Homo sapiens: one gene and its partners. The protein of the gene in region 3 purifies or fractionates together with the protein of the main gene of each other region. This does not show direct contact. Each region holds a gene or a part of one and is shown on either strand. Other genes may lie near its edges.

Evidence for each region.
Region 1: the proteins of WFDC2 (region 3) and MMP2 purify together in Homo sapiens (co-immunoprecipitation; one large-scale study listed by IntAct). This does not show direct contact.
Region 2: the proteins of WFDC2 (region 3) and WDR81 purify together in Homo sapiens (affinity purification with mass spectrometry; 2 studies listed by BioGRID and IntAct, with this or other methods). This does not show direct contact.
Region 4: the proteins of WFDC2 (region 3) and ACYP2 purify together in Homo sapiens (co-immunoprecipitation; one study listed by IntAct). This does not show direct contact.

Annotation. Positions count from the first base shown.
Region 1 is NC_000016.10:55,503,198-55,507,191, reverse strand, and holds the end of MMP2 (72 kDa type IV collagenase isoform 1 preproprotein), read right to left. Parts: intron 1,854-3,994; coding exon 1,750-1,853; 3' UTR 501-1,749; downstream 1-500.
Region 2 is NC_000017.11:1,730,717-1,735,142, reverse strand, and holds part of WDR81 (WD repeat-containing protein 81), read right to left. Parts: intron 4,389-4,426; coding exon 4,198-4,388; intron 4,076-4,197; coding exon 3,885-4,075; intron 2,819-3,884; coding exon 2,653-2,818; intron 2,478-2,652; coding exon 2,312-2,477; intron 1,617-2,311; coding exon 927-1,616; coding exon of another isoform or gene 913-926; intron 1-912. UniProt on the Homo sapiens protein: Functions as a negative regulator of the PI3 kinase/PI3K activity associated with endosomal membranes via BECN1, a core subunit of the PI3K complex.
Region 3 is NC_000020.11:45,475,327-45,479,752, reverse strand, and holds part of WFDC2 (WAP four-disulfide core domain protein 2 precursor), read right to left. Parts: intron 1-4,426.
Region 4 is NC_000002.12:54,118,171-54,122,596, reverse strand, and holds part of ACYP2 (acylphosphatase-2), read right to left. Parts: intron 1-4,426. UniProt on the Homo sapiens protein: Its physiological role is not yet clear.

The DNA of each region.
Region 1 (3,994 bases), on a different chromosome or scaffold from region 3:
AAAAGAGATAGAAACAATGACATCAGGCTCACTGAGGAGGTCACCTGTAGAGTTCACTCCTTACGCACCTTCCTCACCAGCCCCATCATAAGAGGCCAGAAGCAATATATATACTATCAATCAGACTATCGGAGCCAGAAAGGGCCTCAGAAAAACCCCAGGCCTTCAATTTCTGTTCAGCAGTAGCTCCAGAATTTCTATGTAGGAGATTAGGAGTGGGTAGACTGGTAGGAAGGAGTAAGGAGCTTATCCATTAATACCAGCTGTGTTTAGAAGCAAGCACAGTATTTCTCCCTTAGCTGTGTTTACCCAGCGTGGTTTTGGGGGTGGTGGAGGGTAGCAGGAGCGGTTTTGAAGGTGGTGGGGGTGTTTTTGAGGGTGGCGGAGGGTGGTGAGATTCTGGTTTGAGAGCTAAAGCTCCTCTGCTAGGCTATCCTTTGGCCTTGTAGGTCCCTAATAGCTATGGGACCCTGGAAAAATCACTTCTCTTGAGCCATCAGTCTCTTCATCAATAAGATTCAACTAATAATGGCCTTTTTTATTTATGTGGTTGGAAAGGTTAAAATAGGTGACACGTGAAAAGTGCCTTGCACATAGAAAGCACTCTATTAATTGAGGGGGATATTATTGTTACTGTTCATTGTTAGTAGTAGCATTAAAACTGATATGATTGCTAATGAAGAAACAGACTTAAAGAGGAAGCAAACCTCGAACAGATGCCACAATAAAGCAACAAAATTGCTGATTCTTCAGGGCTCTTTCTACAGGACAGAGGGACTAGAGCTTACTCTCCCTGAGGTTCTCTTGCTGTTTACTTTGGAAGCTCTGACCTTTCCAGCAGACACCATCACCTGTGCCCTGCAGGGAGCAGAGATTCGGACTTTTTAAGTTTCCGCTTCTGGCTGGGTCTGTGGCCCTTGTCTAGGCTCTGCTAAAACAGATGGCAAACACGGCCACTCAGTAGGTGTCTTTATTCATACTTGTTGACATTTCCCATGGGGAATGGTTGAAGGGAGGGGCAGGGAGGGCTGAGCGGGAAGCCACGGCTTGGTTTTCCTCCATCCAGTGGAGAAGAGACTCGGTAGGGACATGCTAAGTAGAGTGAACAGGGGAACCATCACTATGTGGGCTGAGATGCACTGTGCAGTGACTTCAGACAACCTGAGTCCTTCTGTCAGGAAATGCAATTTCTAAGTGGAAAAAAAAAACAAGACCCAAAGAAAAAAACAAAGTGCATACAAAGCAAACTGCTAATGTAAGAAAGGTTCTAAGGCAGCCAGCAGTGAAAAGCCAGGGGTCTGGAGTGGCCACCTGGCCATGCCCTGTCCCACTGCCCTGTGCCAGGCTGTCGGGCCACCAGTGCCCTCTTGAGACAGTCTCCATTGGCTCCAAGGGTTCTGTGAGCCACAGAAGGTTGTGAAAGGAGAAGAGCCTGAAGTGTGGCAGCACCAGGGCAGCCCAAAGCAGGGCTGCGTTGAAAATATCAAAGTATCTCTTTAGGGGTGGCTCTGAGGGTTGGTGGGATTGGAGGGGGAAGGGGCGCCTGGGAGGAGTACAGTCAGCATCTATTCTTGGGCACCGGGAGGAGCCACTCTCTGGAATCTTAAATTACCAGGTAGGAGTGAGAATGCTGATTAGCTGTAGAGCTGAAGGCACGGCTGCCAGGCCCCTCCGGGTCCTTCTCTAGTTCTCCAGGCCCGGTGTATCGAAGGCAGTGGAGAGGAAGGGCCTGTGGGAGCCAGGGCCAGCTCAGCAGCCTAGCCAGTCGGATTTGATGCTTCCAAACTTCACGCTCTTCAGACTTTGGTTCTCCAGCTTCAGGTAATAGGCACCCTTGAAGAAGTAGCTGTGACCTGGGATAGAGAAAGAAGAGACCGTGACCCCCTTATCCTGACATTCTGGCACACAGAAGGTTCCTGGGAACTTTGAATTTCTGCCTGGCATAGGGAAGAAGCTTTTAAACGAGAAGAGAGCTTTGAAAGGCTGAGGCAGGAGGATTGCTTGAGCCCAGGAGTTCGAGACCAGCTTGGGCAGCATAGAGAGACCCCCATTTCTACGAAAAACATATTTAAATTAGCTGGGTATAGTGGTACATTCCTGTAGTCCAAGCTACTTAGGAGGCTGACGTGGGAGGGTCGCTTAAGCCCAGGAGTTCGAGGCTGCAGTGAGCTATGATTGTGCCTCTAGCCTGGGTGATAGAGCAAGACCTTGTCCCCCCGCCAAAAAAAAAACTCAACTGTGGCGGGGCGCGGTGGCTCACGCCTGTAATCCCAGCACTTTGGGAGGCCGAGACGGGCAGATCACGAAGTCAGGAGATCAAGACCATCCTGGCTAACATGGTGAAACCTCGTCTCTACTAAAAATACAAAAAATTAGCCGGGCGTGGTGGTAGGCGCCTGTAGTCCCAGCTACTCGGGAGGCTGAGGCAGGAGAATGGTGTGAACCCAGTAGGCGGAGCTTGCAGTGAGCCAAGATCGCGCCACTGCACTCCAGCCTGGGCGACAGAGGGAGACTCTGTCTCAAAAAAAAAAAAAAAAAAATTCAATTGTTTCAATCTGAGCTGATTGAAGAAAAGAAAACAAAAACAAAACCAAAACACAACAAAAGCCCAGAAGAGCCCCCTCTGGGAGTGGAAGAAGGGAAATGGCTGTGAAATAAGCTCTTTTATTCCCTGTTTGCTCATCTCTAAGATGAGGATAAAGATTATCAACCTTCTAGGGCTTGCAGTGAGCATTAAGTCAGATAACATATGCTATTATTAAAAACAATAACTCCACTTAACACAAGCATCAAACTAAGCACATTCCATGTACCAGAGGTGGCAAAACAGGATATATCCAGTCCTGTCAGGCCCACAGATGGGTTTTATTTGACTCTCACAAGTTTGTTTTGTTTTGTCTTTAAATCTGAATAACTTGCCAACATGTAAACATCCAAAAAGTCACACAGAAGTACAGATTTCTGGCTTCCTTTAAAAAAACTAGAATATCTAATATAGAATATCTAACAACACCAGGCCCCATTCTTTTTTTTTGAGACCAGGTCTCACTCTGTCACCCAGTCTGGAATGCAGCGGCATGAACACGGCTCACTGCAGCCTTAAACTCCTGGGCTCAAGCGATCCTCTCTGCTCACCCTCCCCAGTAGCTGGGACTACAGGTATGCGCCGTCATGTGTAGCTAATGTTTTTTAAAATTTTTTTGTAGAGATAGAGTCTCACTATGTTGCCCAGGCTGGTCTCAAACTCCTGCGCTCAAGCAGTTCTCCTGCCTTGGCCTCCCAGAGTGCTGGGATGACAGGTGTGAACCATGGCAGCTGCCTAGGCCCCTAATCTTGCCCGCCAATAATTATCTGAAGGTGAGAAGAAAGTGTCTCCTGTAAATGAGGCATGTGCTCTGATTCCGCACAGACTCCACAGTTCCCCACTGTCTGCCCCTGCCTGCTTTACTCATTTGTGCTACCTGCCTGACACATGGAGCTGTTGGAGTTTGTGACTCCTGACATACATAATCTCATTTACTATTAATATGCTAGCATGTAGTAGGTGCTCAATAGATGTTTATTCTTGAAGATAACTCCTAATCTAGCATCTGATTGTACACTGCATTTTCTTGGACATGTAAGACCTTCAGCTACTGGAGGTCAGGGCCTGTGCTTAGCATACAGTAGGTGCTCAAAAAAAAAAAAATCTGTGGAATTTAGTTGAAATCTCCTCTAAAAAAAGCCAAACTGGACCCATTTCCAGGACCCTAGAAAGCTCACAGATGCCTCCTCAAGAGTATGATTTTCAAACTCCAAATTCTATCCCTCGCTGCTACTGGTTGTGTTTTAATCAGCAGGGGGCCAGGGGCAAACTGGTTGAGTGGAGGATCTTTGCCACATGAGCAACAGAGCATGACAAAGTTTGCCTTGTCTCAAATGGAGCCATCCTTCTGCTAATGGGAGGTGGTCACAGGCCTCCTGCAAAACGCAAATGGGCCTGGATCAAACCCCA
Region 2 (4,426 bases), on a different chromosome or scaffold from region 3:
TTGTATTCTTAGTAGAGATGGGGTTTCACCATGTCAGCCAGTCTGGTCTCCAACTCCTGGCCTCCCAGAGTGCTGAGATTACAGGCGTGAGCCACTGCATCGGCCTAAAGATGTTTCTTGACTCTCCCACCTTCCTGCTTCCATGGCCCGGCCAGGCTCCCATCCCCAAAGCAACCTCCTCTCTCTGCACAGTGCTGCTGACCCAATGCCACCTCCCTCTGTCTTCCCCGACACCATCCCTTTCCCCCTTTTAACCATATTTCTCCCTATGGTGACGCCAAAAAATAAGCAACCATTGACCAAATATCTGCTACACATGAAGCCAAAACCCTACATGTGTTATCTTCTTCTTTTTTTTTTTTTTGAGACAGAGTCTCGCTCTGTTGCCCGGGCTGGAGTGCAGTGGTGCGATCTCGGCTCACGGCAACCTCTGCCACCTGAGTTTGAGAGATTCTCCTGCCTCAGCCTCCTGTGTAGTTGGGAGTACAGGCACCCGCCACCACGCCCGGCTAATTTTTGTATTTTTAGTAGAGACGGGGTTTCACCATGTTAGCCAGGATGATCTCGATCTCCTGACCTCGTGATCCACCCGCCTCAGCCTCCCAAAGTGCTGGGATTACAGGCGTGAGCCACTGCGCCCGGCTGTGTGTTATCTTCTACGCCAGTTTTTCTGATTCTCAGTTTATAGATGGGAAAGGAGACGCTTCCAGCAGCAGGAACTTGCTCAAGGTCACTCAGCAAGTAAGCCGGTGGAGCCAATTCAGACTCAAGTCTAACAGATTCGAAGCCCTAACTGTTCTCCTAGGCGGCCTCGCTGGGTCTCCCCAAACTCCGCAGCATTACAGCCCCACCCTCGGGCCCCCTTCCTGGAGGCCTGGTGGGGCGCAGGAGCAGGAAGAGAACAGGCCTCACCTGGGCCCGCTCACCTGTGAAGGGGTCCCAGACGTGCACAGCCCCGTCACAGCTCACCACGTGCTGCGGGGCCTCAAGCTGGCCCACGAAGAAGACGCTCTTGCGGTGCTGGGTGTAGACGAGGCGTGGGGCCGTCTCGCTGGTCCCGTCGCCGTAGTTGTACAGCGGCCAGAGGCGCACGGTACGATCCTTGCTGCCGCTCAGGAAGAAGTCCTCGCTGCTTAGGGGTGCCACGCACTTGACGGCCCCCGAGTGGCCCGGGAAGCTCTGCAGGCGGATCTGGTGGAAGTGAAAGTGGGCATCCTGCTGGCTCACGCCGATCTCGTACTGCCAGTACGCCAGCCAGTTTCCGCTCAGCCCGTGCACGCTCCGCGGCAGCTCCTGCTTCAGGGCGTTGTCGTCGCTCCCGCTGCCCAGGCCCCCGCCACCCACCCCCGAGATGGGGCCCAGTGGTCCGGGGTTCTCAGGCCGAGAGTCATTGGGGATCTGAATGCGGTTCCCCACCAGGACGCTCCCAAAGGTCCCTGAGTGGCCGTCATCCTGAGGGCAGCCCCCACCATGGGGGTCCCACTCGGGCCCGGTGCCGGGCATGGTGGGCTCCACGCTGGCAGGGTTGCGACTGCTGGGGCTGATGCTCTCCAAGTACAGCGCCGCCAGCTCCCCAACCAGCTCGTGGTTGGGGATGATTTTCCGGATGATGTCACCTGGATAGGAGTGGGAGAGGTCCTGAGACAGGGAAGATGGCAGGCGGCTGCTATCACCCATCCAAGGACTCGGGAGCCACAGAAGATGGGGCAGGAACTGGCTCTGCAACTCTGGGCAAGTAACTCTGTCTCTGAGCCTCAGTTTCCTCCTCAGTGAAATGTGGATTCATTCCGTTGTGATGTACACATGAGCATCTTCTATATGTGCCGTGCCGTGCTGGGCACTAGGAATAGAATATGGAACAAGACAGGTGGTGCCCTGGCCTCCCAAGCTTAGATTTCAGTGGCAGGATGATAACAGGTGTAACCACAAGGCTGTCTGTCCTCTCCAGGGAGATGACACGCTGAAACGATCAGCACAGCACCGTGCAGGGCCCAGAGGGGAAGCTTCGTAAACAGGAGGCCACTCCTTCCCTCTCGCCAGCTCCTGCGGACCGCCAGTCCACCTCCCTGACTCTCCTGCCTTCCCCAGGGACACTACAGGCCAGCTTCTGGGCCTCTCTTGCTGGCTACTGCTCAGTCCTTGTTTGTGTGTCACCTTGGGGGTAGGGGTCTGAGGCCAAATCCCTTTGCTCTCACCCATCCTGCTGGCTCTTAGAACCCACTGCTGACTCTGGGGCAAGGGCAGAGAATGGGGCCTCCCAAGGGAGGAGACAGCCACGAAGACTGTGATGGGGAACGTGATGGGGCAGTACCCAACAGGCAGGAGAAGGGCACGTAGATTGTGTATGCCATCTCCAGGGTGAACACCTTCTGCAGCTCGTCCAGCAGGGCGGGGTCCACGGGCCGCTGCTGCCCATCAGAGAAGACCACCTGTGGCAGCTGGCCCTCACCACGGCCCGCAGGGTCCAGCTTCAGATCCTATGAGCAAGACACCCAGGGGGTCAGCCGGGTCCACAGCTCCCACCCTGGCCCACCCTGGTCCTCGCCACGGCCCGCGGAGTCCAGCTTCAGATCCTATGAGCAAGATGCCCAGGGGGTCACCCAGGTCCACAGCCCCCGCCCCAGCCCGCCCTGGCCCAGCAGATCTGCCCACCTGTTGCCGAAGCTCATGCAGCTGAGAGAAGACCTGGAAAAAGGTGGCCACGGGCTCGCTCAGGTGCTGCTGGACCATCTCCTGTCCAATGCGCAGGCAGATGAGGGCGATGAGGCTGATGGTTTTCACACACAGGATGGTCCGAGCCTGGGCCCCACTTGGGAACCTGGAAACAGAGCTCATGAGCTCCAGCCCGCCGTTCTGCAGGACTTGACCAGAATCTAGCAAAATCTTTATTTATTTTTATTTTTATTGAGATGGAGTCTTGCTCTGTCATCCAGGCTGGAGTGCAGTGGTGCGATCTCGGCTCACTGCAACCTCTGCCTCCCGGGTTCAAGCGATTCTCCTGCCTCAGTCTCCCGAGTAGCTGGGACTACAGGCATGAGCCACCATACCCGGCTAATTTTTTTTGTATTTTTAGTAGAGACAGGGTTTTGCCATATTGGCCAGGCTGGTCTCGAACTCCTGACCTCAAGCGATCCACCCACCTTGGCCTCCCAAAGTGCTGGGATTACAGGCATGAGCCACAGCACCCAGCATATATATATACTTTTTTTTTTTTTTGAGACAGAGTCTTGCTCTGTCGCCTAGGCTGCAGTACAATGGCGTGATCTCAGCTCACTGCAACCTCCGCTTCCTGGGTTCAAGCAATTCTCCCGCCTCAGCCTCCTGAGAACCTGGGATTGCAGCCTCCCGAGAACCTGGGATTGCAGGCACCTGCTGCCATGCCCAGCGAAGATTTTGTATTTTTAGTGGAGACGGGGTTTCACCATGTTGGCCAGGTGGGTCTCAAACTCCTGACCTCGTGATCCACCCGCCTTGGCCCCCCAAAGTGCTGGGATTACAGGGGTGAGACACCACGCTCGGCCTTTATATATATTTTTAGAGAGGGGGTCTCATTTTGTTGCCCAGGCTGGTCTTGAACTCCTGGGCTCAAGCAATCTTCCCGCCTCAGCCTCTCAAAGTGCTGGGATTACAGGCATGAGCCACCGTGCCCGGACATATCAAAAGCTTTAAATGAAAGAGCTCCAAGACCAACTGGTCCAAACCAGATGAGGAAACTGAGGCACAGGAAAAGGGTGTGGTTTGCTCAGGGTCACACAGCCGGGATCAAAACCAGGACTCTTGACACCCAGTCCAGTGTTACGTCCTCTCCCCTGAGCTTCCCACCCCCTCCTGGGCAGCCCCTCCGCTGGGCCGGTCCCCCTACATCAGCTGGGGCAGAGGCCTACCCCGTGACGAGGGAGGTGAGGAAGCTGAGCACGGGCAGCAGGACCTCATGGCTGATCCGGGGCAGGATGTCCATGAGTGTGGTGTCTGAGAGGTACACGATGATCTTCTGAGTCAGCGTCACCGCGGCCAGCAGCCCCGCCTCCTTACGGCTGTTCAGTCGGCTGGGGCCTGAGGCACTCCCTGGGGCCACCTAGAGCCACCGAGCAGATGAGGGCCGGGCAGCCCCACAGACCCCCTGGCACCAAGAGAGCCCGGGCCGGCCCTCAGGTCCTCAGCCTTCCCAGCCCCGGGCCTGCCAAACCAGCGACTGACCAGGTAGCTGATGTAGGGCAGGTACTGGTAGGTGAGGACAGGCTCCCCATACAGGCGGGCGATGTGGAGGAGGCAGCTGAGCACAGGCCCTGACACGATGTCGCCCAGGACCGGCCTCTTCTGGTAGATGTTGCCGGCGCTCAGCGGTGGGCTCTCGCCACTGCTCACTGTGAACTGCTGCCGAGTGGGTCCTGCCACGGAAGGGCCAGCAGCCCTGAGTCGCCAGTGG
Region 3 (4,426 bases):
TGCTCCCAAATGGAATCACAGGACCTCAGCTTGAGTCCCAAGTGGGCCTTCGTGGCCTAGGGCCAGAAATCTCCCAGAGCCTCCGTGTCTTTAGGTGCCAGTGGAACAGTGCTAATTACAACATAGGGTTGTTGTGAAAGCAGTGGGAAACAAACATATATTATTTCTCCCTGAAATATCAAACTACTCTGTAGTTATGAGAAATTATAACAGTGAACACTTAATTAGCTCTTATTACATGCCAGGTATCAAGCCCCTAACATATATTAACTCTTCTAATTCTCACAATAATCCTAAAAGAAGGGGAGGGATCTGTTAATATTTCCTTGTGTTACAAGTGAGGAAACTGAGGCACTGAGAAGTTAAGTAATTTGCCTAAGGTCACACAGAATTGAGGCAGAATTTGAACCCCAAGAAATCTAGCTGCAGAGTCTATGTGTTAACTGCTGCTGCCATGGTTAAGCACTATGCTGCCACTTAAAGTGTAAAGTACAGTACACATGTGAGGGGTTACACACTTATAATCTTCACTCATACCCACAGACCGAATCCCAGTTGCAGTCTCTCAGCACCATGACCCTCCAAATACACTCATTCATCCATGCAGAGAGAAACCACACGTCCTTCCACTAACAAACACACACACAATCACACTCCACTTCCCAGGTTAGATAGAGGGGAGCCAGGCCCAGCCAAATCCATTCATCAACTGAGGTACATCATGGTTGCTTCCAACTTTTGGCAATTATAAATAAAGCTGCTATAAATATGTGCAGGTTTTTGTGTGTAAAACACAGGCACAGAACTGGGTGATTAGCTGTAGAGGACAAGGAAAGTGGCTGACAGATCACCGGGTGCAGTGGCTCATGCCTGTAATCCCACACTTTGGGAGGCTCAGGCGGGTGGGATCATCGGAGGTCAGGACTCGAGACCCCCCGCTCTACTAAAAATACAAAAAAGTTAACTGGGCGTGGTGGCATGCACCGGTAATCCCAGCTACTTGGGAGGCTGAGGCAGGAGAATCGCTTGCACCTGGGAGACAGAGGTTGTAGTGAGCTGAGATCATGCCACTGCACTCCAGCCTGGGCGACAGAGCGAGACTCCATCTCAAAAAAAAAAAAGATTTAGGTTCAGCTTTCAAGATGGCCGAATAGTAACAGCTCCAGTCTGCAGCTCCCAGTGAATCAATGCAGAAGGCAGGTGATTTCTGCATTTTCAAATGAGGTACGTGGCTCATCTCATTGGGACTGGTTAGACAGTGGGTGCAGCCCACGGAGGGCGAGCAGAAGTAGGGTAGGGCATCATCTCACCTGGGAAGCACAAGAGGTCAGGGAACTCCCTCCCCTAGCCAAGGGAAGCCATGAGGGACTGTGCCGTGAGGAATAGTGCACTCTGGAGCAGATACTACACTTTTCCCACGGTCTTCACAACCCACAGACCAAGAGATTCCTTTGGGTGCCTACACCACCAGGGCCCTGGGTTTCAAGCACAAAACTAGGTGGCCATTTGGGCAGACACTGAGCTAGCTGCAGGATTTTTTTTTCATACCCCAGTGGTGCCTGGAATGCCAGTGAGACAGAACCATTCACGCCCCTGGAAAGGGGGCTGAAGCTAGGGAGACAAGTGGTCTAGCTCAGCGGATCCCACCCCCATGGAGCCCAGCAAGCTAACATCCACTGGCTTGAAATTCTCACTGCCAGCACAGCAGTCTGAAGTTGACCTGGAACTCTCAAGCTTGGTAGGGGGAGGGGCGTCCACCATTACTGAGGCTTGAGTAGGCAGTTTTCCCCTCACAGAGTAAACAAAGCCACCAGGAAGTTCAAACTGGGCAGAGCCCAACACAGCTCGGCAAAGCCGCTGTAGCCAGACTGCCTCTCTAGATTCCTCCTCTCTGGGCAGGGCATCTCTGAAAAAAAGGCAGCAGCCCTAGTCAGGGGCTTATAGGTAAAACTCCCATCTCCCTGGGACAGAGCACCTGGGGGAAGGGGCAGCTGTGGATGTGGCTTCAGCCTGCCTGCCGGTTCTGAAGAGAGCAGCAGATCTCCCAGCACAGCATTTGAGCTCTGCTAAGGGTCAGACTGCCTCCTCAAGTGAGTCCCTGATTTCCGTGTCTCCTGACTGGGAGACACCTTCCAGCAGGGGCTGACAGACACCTCATACAGGAGAGCTCTGGCTGGCATCTGGCGGGTGCCCCTCTGGGACAAAGCTTCTAGAGGAAGGAACAGGCAGCAATCTTTGCTGTTCTGCAGCCTCTGCTGGTGATAGCCAGGCAAACAGGGTCTGGAGTGGACCTCCAGCAAACGCCAACAGACCTGCAGCTGAGGGGCCTGATTGTTAGAAGGAAAACTAACAGAAAGGAATAGCATCAACATCAACAAAAAGGACGTCCACTCAGAAGGCCCATCCAAAGATCATCAACATCAAAGACCAAAGGTAGATAAATCCACGAAGATGGGGAGAAACCAGCACAAAAAGGCTGAAAATTCCAAAAACCAGAACACCTCTTCTCCAAAGGATCACAATTCCTCGCCAGCAAGGGAACAAAACTGGACGGAGAATGAGTTTGACAAATTGACAGAAGTAGGCTTCAGAAGGTGGGTAATAACAAACTCCTCCAAGCTAAAGGAGCATGTTCTAACCCCAATGCAAGAAAGGTAAGAACCTTGAAAAAAGGTTATAGGAATTGCTAACTAGATTAACCAGTTTAGAGAAGAACATAAATGACCTGATGGAGCTGAAAAACACAGCACGAGAACGTCATGAAGCCTATACAAGTATCAATAGCCGAATTGATCAAGCAGAAGAAGGATATCAGAGATTGAAGATCAATTTAATGAAATAAAGAATGAAGATGAGATTAGAGAAAAAATAATGAAAAGGAATGAATGAACAAAGCCTCCAAAAAATATGGGACTATGTGAAAAGACCAAACCTATGTTTGATTGATGTACCTGAAAGTGATGGGGAGAATGGAACCAAGTTGGAAAACACTGTTCAGGATATTATACAGGAGAACTTCCCCAACCTAGCAAGAAAGGCCAACATTCAAATTCAGGAAATACAGAGAACACCTCAAAGATACTCCTTGAGAAGAATAACCCCAAGACACATAATCATCAGATTCACCAAGGTTGAAATGAAGAAAAAAATGTTAAGGGCACCCAGAGAGAAAGGTTGGGTTACCCACTATGGGAGGCCCTTCAGACTAACTGCAGATCTCTCTGCAGAAACCCTGCAAACCAGAAGACAGTGGGGGCCAATATTCAATATTCTTAAAGAATTTTCAACCCAGAATTTCATATCCAGCCAAAGTAAGCTTCATACATGAAGGAGAAATAAAATCCTTTATAGACAAACAAATGCTGAGGGATTTTTCTCATCAACAGGCCTGCCTTACAAGGTCTCCTGAAAGGAGCACTAAACATAGAAAGGAACAACTGGAATCAGCAACTGCAAAAACATACCAAATTGTAAAGACCATCGACACTATGAAGAAACTGCATCAACTAATAGACAAAATAACCAGCTAGCATCATAATGACAGGATCAAACTCACACATAACAATATTAACCTTAAATGTAAACAGGCTAAATGCCCCAGTTAAAAGACAAAGACTGGCAAATTGGATAAAGAGTCAAGACCCATTGGTGTGCTGTATTCAGGAGACCCATCTCAAGTGCAAAGACACATAGGCTCAAAATAAAGGGATAGAGGAATATTTACCAAGCAAATGGAAAGCAAAAAAAAATCAGGGGTTGCAATTCTATTCTCTGATAAAACAGACTTTAAACCAACAAAGATCAAAAGAGACAAAGAAGGGCATTACACAATGGTAAAGGGATCAATGCAACAAGAAGAGCTAATTATGCTAAATATATATGCACCTAATACAGGAGCACCCTGATTCATAAAGCAAGTTCTTAGAGACCTACAAAGAGACTTAGACTCCGACATAATAATAGTGGGAAACTTTAACCCCCACTGTCAATATTAGACAGATCAATGAGACGGAAAATTAACAAAGATATCCAAGACTTGAACTCAGCTCTGGACCAAGCAGACCTAATAGACATCTACAGAACTCTCCACCCCAAATCAACAGAATATACATTCTCCTCAGCACCACATCACACTTATTCTAAAACTGACCACATAATTGGAAGTAAAACACTAATTAGCAAATGCAAAAGAACGGAAATCCTAACAGTCTCTCAGACCACAGTGCCATCAAATTAGAATTCAGGATTAAGAAACTCACTCAAGACCGCATAACCTTACATGGAAACTGAACAACCTGCTCCTGAATGACTACTAGGTAAATAACAAAATCAAGGCAGAAATAAATAAGTTCTTTGAAACCAATGAGAACAAAGACATAACATACCAGAATCTCTGAGACACAGCTAAAGCAGTGCTTAGAAGGAA
Region 4 (4,426 bases), on a different chromosome or scaffold from region 3:
CAGTGTTGGCTGGAACACAGCCCTCTTGGGACAGGGCTTCTGTAGGAGATTTATCTATGGGCTTTCGTGGCCTCCCCATACTTTTTCCACCTCACTTGCTGAAGAGAAGGAAAGCTGATATGACACATGCAGGTTTTTTACAGACACTCTGCTCTGGAAACTGGGGCAGACATCAGCCCTTTTGGTGATAAAAGACTCCAGCACGATATGCTGCTCAGTCAAGGTCCAGTCCACTACAACTGTACCTCACTTTGTGGAAAGAGGTGTCAGTGAGAAACCCTGAGAGGAATGTTTGCAAAGTAAATCATACTTTGAATTGACAAACACACACTGATATTTAAAGAAACCTGTGATGAGTTTTAAATGTCAACACCTTTTCATGTAAAATCCTATTTTTTATATTGTAACCTACCATTTCATCCTGGGATCTGACTGCATGTGTCAATTTTGAATGCAGGAAGTGATCTATATGCTGCCTTACAAAGCAGCCCTTAATGACTGTAAATATCTTTAATTGTTACAAAGCTTTCCTTATGTGGAATAAAATTCTGCCTTACTTAACCTTTCACCATCAGTCCAGGTTCTGTTCCCTGGAGCCATACACCACGGCATCTTTCAAACAGTTAAAACAGCCATCACACTACAATTTCTTCTCCAAGCCAGATATCCCCAAATACTTCAATTTAATTCAGTTCACTTTTGAAGGACCCACTAGAGGCGTAGCCGTGTAGGGGATATGAAAACAAGCCACCAGCCTGACCTTCAAAATACTGTCATTATTTTCTAGTGAGAGACACATACAAGTGTACACAGATAACTGTAGCTGAAAGCAGAATGATTAAAAGGATAAACACAAAGTATAACTACTATAAATAAAATACTATAAGAACAAAGACAGGAGAGGGAATTAGAGTTAACCATATTTATGTTTCTTGACTTTAATGGTGGTACTTAATATTTTCAACCTCTAAAACACAGCTTTTCCATTTACTTGTCTATGTAAGAAAAATGTGTACTTCTAAATCATGCATTATCTGACAAAGCCATTTAATAATTCATCCCAGTTTTCATTTTAAGCAATATTTAAGAAATATGGTATTCATCTCAGTTATAGCAGTAGGAAACAGACAAATTCCTCGGTAGACAGGGACAGGTCTCCGGTGAAACCAGACCTTCAAGTGAAACCTGAAACCGAGTTGCCAGTTCCAGGTGGAGTCCACAACCAGAGTGAGAACTTCCTCGATGCCTTTTAGCCAACTGAATGGTGCTTTTTCCAGGCCCACCCATGGAACAATTAGCATACACCCCATTCTGAGCCCATAAAAACCCCAGACTCAGCCTTACAGATGGCTATCCACTTTCAGGCCCCCTCTCACACAGAGGGCTACCCACTTCGGGTCCCCTCTCTTTATCGAGAGCTTTTCTGTCAGTCAATAAAATTCTTCTCTGCCTTGTTCACTCTCCAGTGTCCGCGTACCTCATTCCTCTTGGTCATGGGACAAGAGCGAATGGCAGGTGCAAAAAGAGCTGTAACATATGCTCATGCTCGCCGAGCTATAGGAGTGAAAAAACCATTGTGTGCCAACATGCCCCCATTTGCTGAGCTGCAGGCAGCAGGACCCAATGAGTTGTGACACGCTCCCATTCACTGAAGCTGCAGACAGCAGAAATGAACGACAGTGTAACACTTTCTGGAGGCTCAGGCCTCAGGACTCCCCAAGCAAAAGCTGTAACACACCTTGGGGCTCTGTGGTTGCTGGCATCTCCAAGTTATTGGGCACTGCCACATCCCCCTCATCCAGACACCAGCATCCAAGGTAGAAGTTGGTCACGGCACCCCTGGACCAGCTGCGGGCTGACCACAGAGCCAAGGCAAGCGCAGGATCCAGACCAGTAGCACAGCCTGAGCGCAGTCTGCTGGGCCAAGTGGGCAGAGTAAGCCCAGTGGGCCCAAGCAAAGCCTGGGCAGAGGTGCCACTAGCCGTGGAGATTTCTGGCTGGCAAAGTGGCACTGAAAGAATTCTGTGTCATCAGTAGTCAAATAAGCTACTCTTATTCTAAAAAAACTCAGTCAAAAAAAAATTCTAAGCACATGTATACCAACAGATAGTCACAATGCATTTCTAGGAGTGTCATTAGTATTCCCCTGAGAGCTGGTAAAGCATCAAAGCATCTATACACAGCATAATCAATTTCCCTTTCAAATTTTCAGATTATATTATTCTAGATGTAAATATAATTAAACATCTATAGAAACATTATAAACCAGGCCACAGTTACAAACACTCTAAAAGCACAGGGGCTCAGTCCCCAGCTCTCTTAACCCTCTCCCAAAGTCCTTGATGCAAGGGAAGTTGATGGGGAAAAAACGTGGAGCTCCTTGAGAATGTGAAGATTTTTTAAAGTACAGGATGAAAAGAGAGAGAGAAAAAAAAGAGTAACTTTAGAGTGGAGAAACCAGACAAACACTATCACAGCCAGGTGATCAAGGTTAACATCAACAGTGATAAGTCAGATTGACAGTATATACCCTTGATAGGTGTGACAAGAGCAGCACTTCACCTCTGTGGTCTTCCTTCCAATACCCCATTATCCCAGTCTTATCATAACAAAAATATCAGACAAATCCCAATTGGGGAGCATTCTACAAAGTACTTGACCTCAAAGTACTCCTTAAAACTGCCAACGTCATCGACAACAAGGTAAGTCTAACAGAATGTCACAGCCTCAAGGAGCCTGAGGAGGCAAGGGGGCTAAATGTATCTGGATGGGATCCTGGAACCAAAAAAAAGACATTAGGTAAAAACTAAGGAAACCTTGAAAAAAGTAAGGACTTTAGTTCATAATAATGTATCCATATTGGCTTAAACCAGTTGTACGGTCCCTATACTAACAACACATCATTTTTGGTTGGAAAACGTTTTCTGCAATAAACTCAAGCAAGCCAATTTAATTCATTGATCAATTTTCCATACAGGAGGGTTAAAACATTTTCCATTTTTTCCATGTTCACTTTCATGTCATTGAAACAATTTTCACTGGGAATAGTTTCCACTCAAATATTTTAATGATGACTTTATCAATCCGTATTTTGTCCATAATAAATGTTCCCAATTATAGGTTCTTCCATTGCGAATTTACTTTCATAGCCATTATTTCTAACAAGACAGTTTTCACTAAAATTTTATTATTCCATACTTTATTTATTTTATTGTTTCTTTAGAGACAGTCTCACTCTGTTGCCCAGGCTAGTGGCTCATGCTTATAAGGCCAGAACTTTGTGAGGCCGAGGTGGGAGGCTTGCTTGAGGCCAGGAGTTCAAAACCAGCCTAGTCAACATAGTGAGACTCCCTCTCTACCAAGGAAAAATTAAAAAGTTAGCTGGGCATGGTGACTCATGCCTGTAGTCCCAACTACTCAAGAGGAGGCTGAGGCAGGAAGATCATATGAGCCCAGGAGCTCAAGGCTGCAGTGAGCTATGATCTTGCCCGGGTGACATAATGAGACCCTGTTAAAAAAAAAAAAAAAAAAAAAAAAAAAAAAAAGACTACTAAGATTCAAATCCCACTTCTTAACTTGTGTATAACTGGGAAAGAAGTTACTTCCCCACGCCTCAATGTCTCCATCTGTTAAATGAGAAAAACCATTGCAGTTACAGGGATGAGGATTAAATGAGACAATATATGTAAAATGTTGAGTACAGAGCTTGGCACATTCTAAATTGTCAGGGAATGTCAATGTAGATGTATGTAAATATGTGATGGTGAGTTTGTACTACATACTATGCCTTGATCAATAGTGGGCATGTACTCTCTTCCATTTAGCATACTGCAAACTATAGGAATTATTGCCCTAAAGTTGACTTTTTAAACCCCACTATTTATGTATAGTACGTTTCTCTTTTCCATATTTTTACTGCTGGTCCAAATTGATTATATACCGTGTTACCACTATGTGCACAAAAGTGGAATTGTATAGTTAATAGAAATATATAATGTAATAGCAGATAACATCTTATAATGGGAAAGCACAACTTTTAAAGTCAGAGAGATGTAGAATCAAATCCCATTTGTCAACTAAGGGCTTGTCCAAGTTACTGAATCTCTGTGCACCTGTTTTGTCCTTGTTAAAACAGGAATAAGACATGCATCTCACAAAATTGTGATGATTAAGTAAACAACAGTGAAATGCTCAGCACAAAGAACACCCATAATAAATGTCACACATTCACACACACACACAGACTCCTTCACTACTGCCATTTGTCTCTAGTGGACCATTCTGTCAGGTGATCTTTGCCACCACTTTCGTATTTTACATTACGTGTTTTGGTGACTTATTGTGGCAGTTTTCAAAGCAGGATAACATACCGCTGGGTTCACTCAAAGACTTTCTAAAGAGTACAGATCCATGCATAATGTTCAGG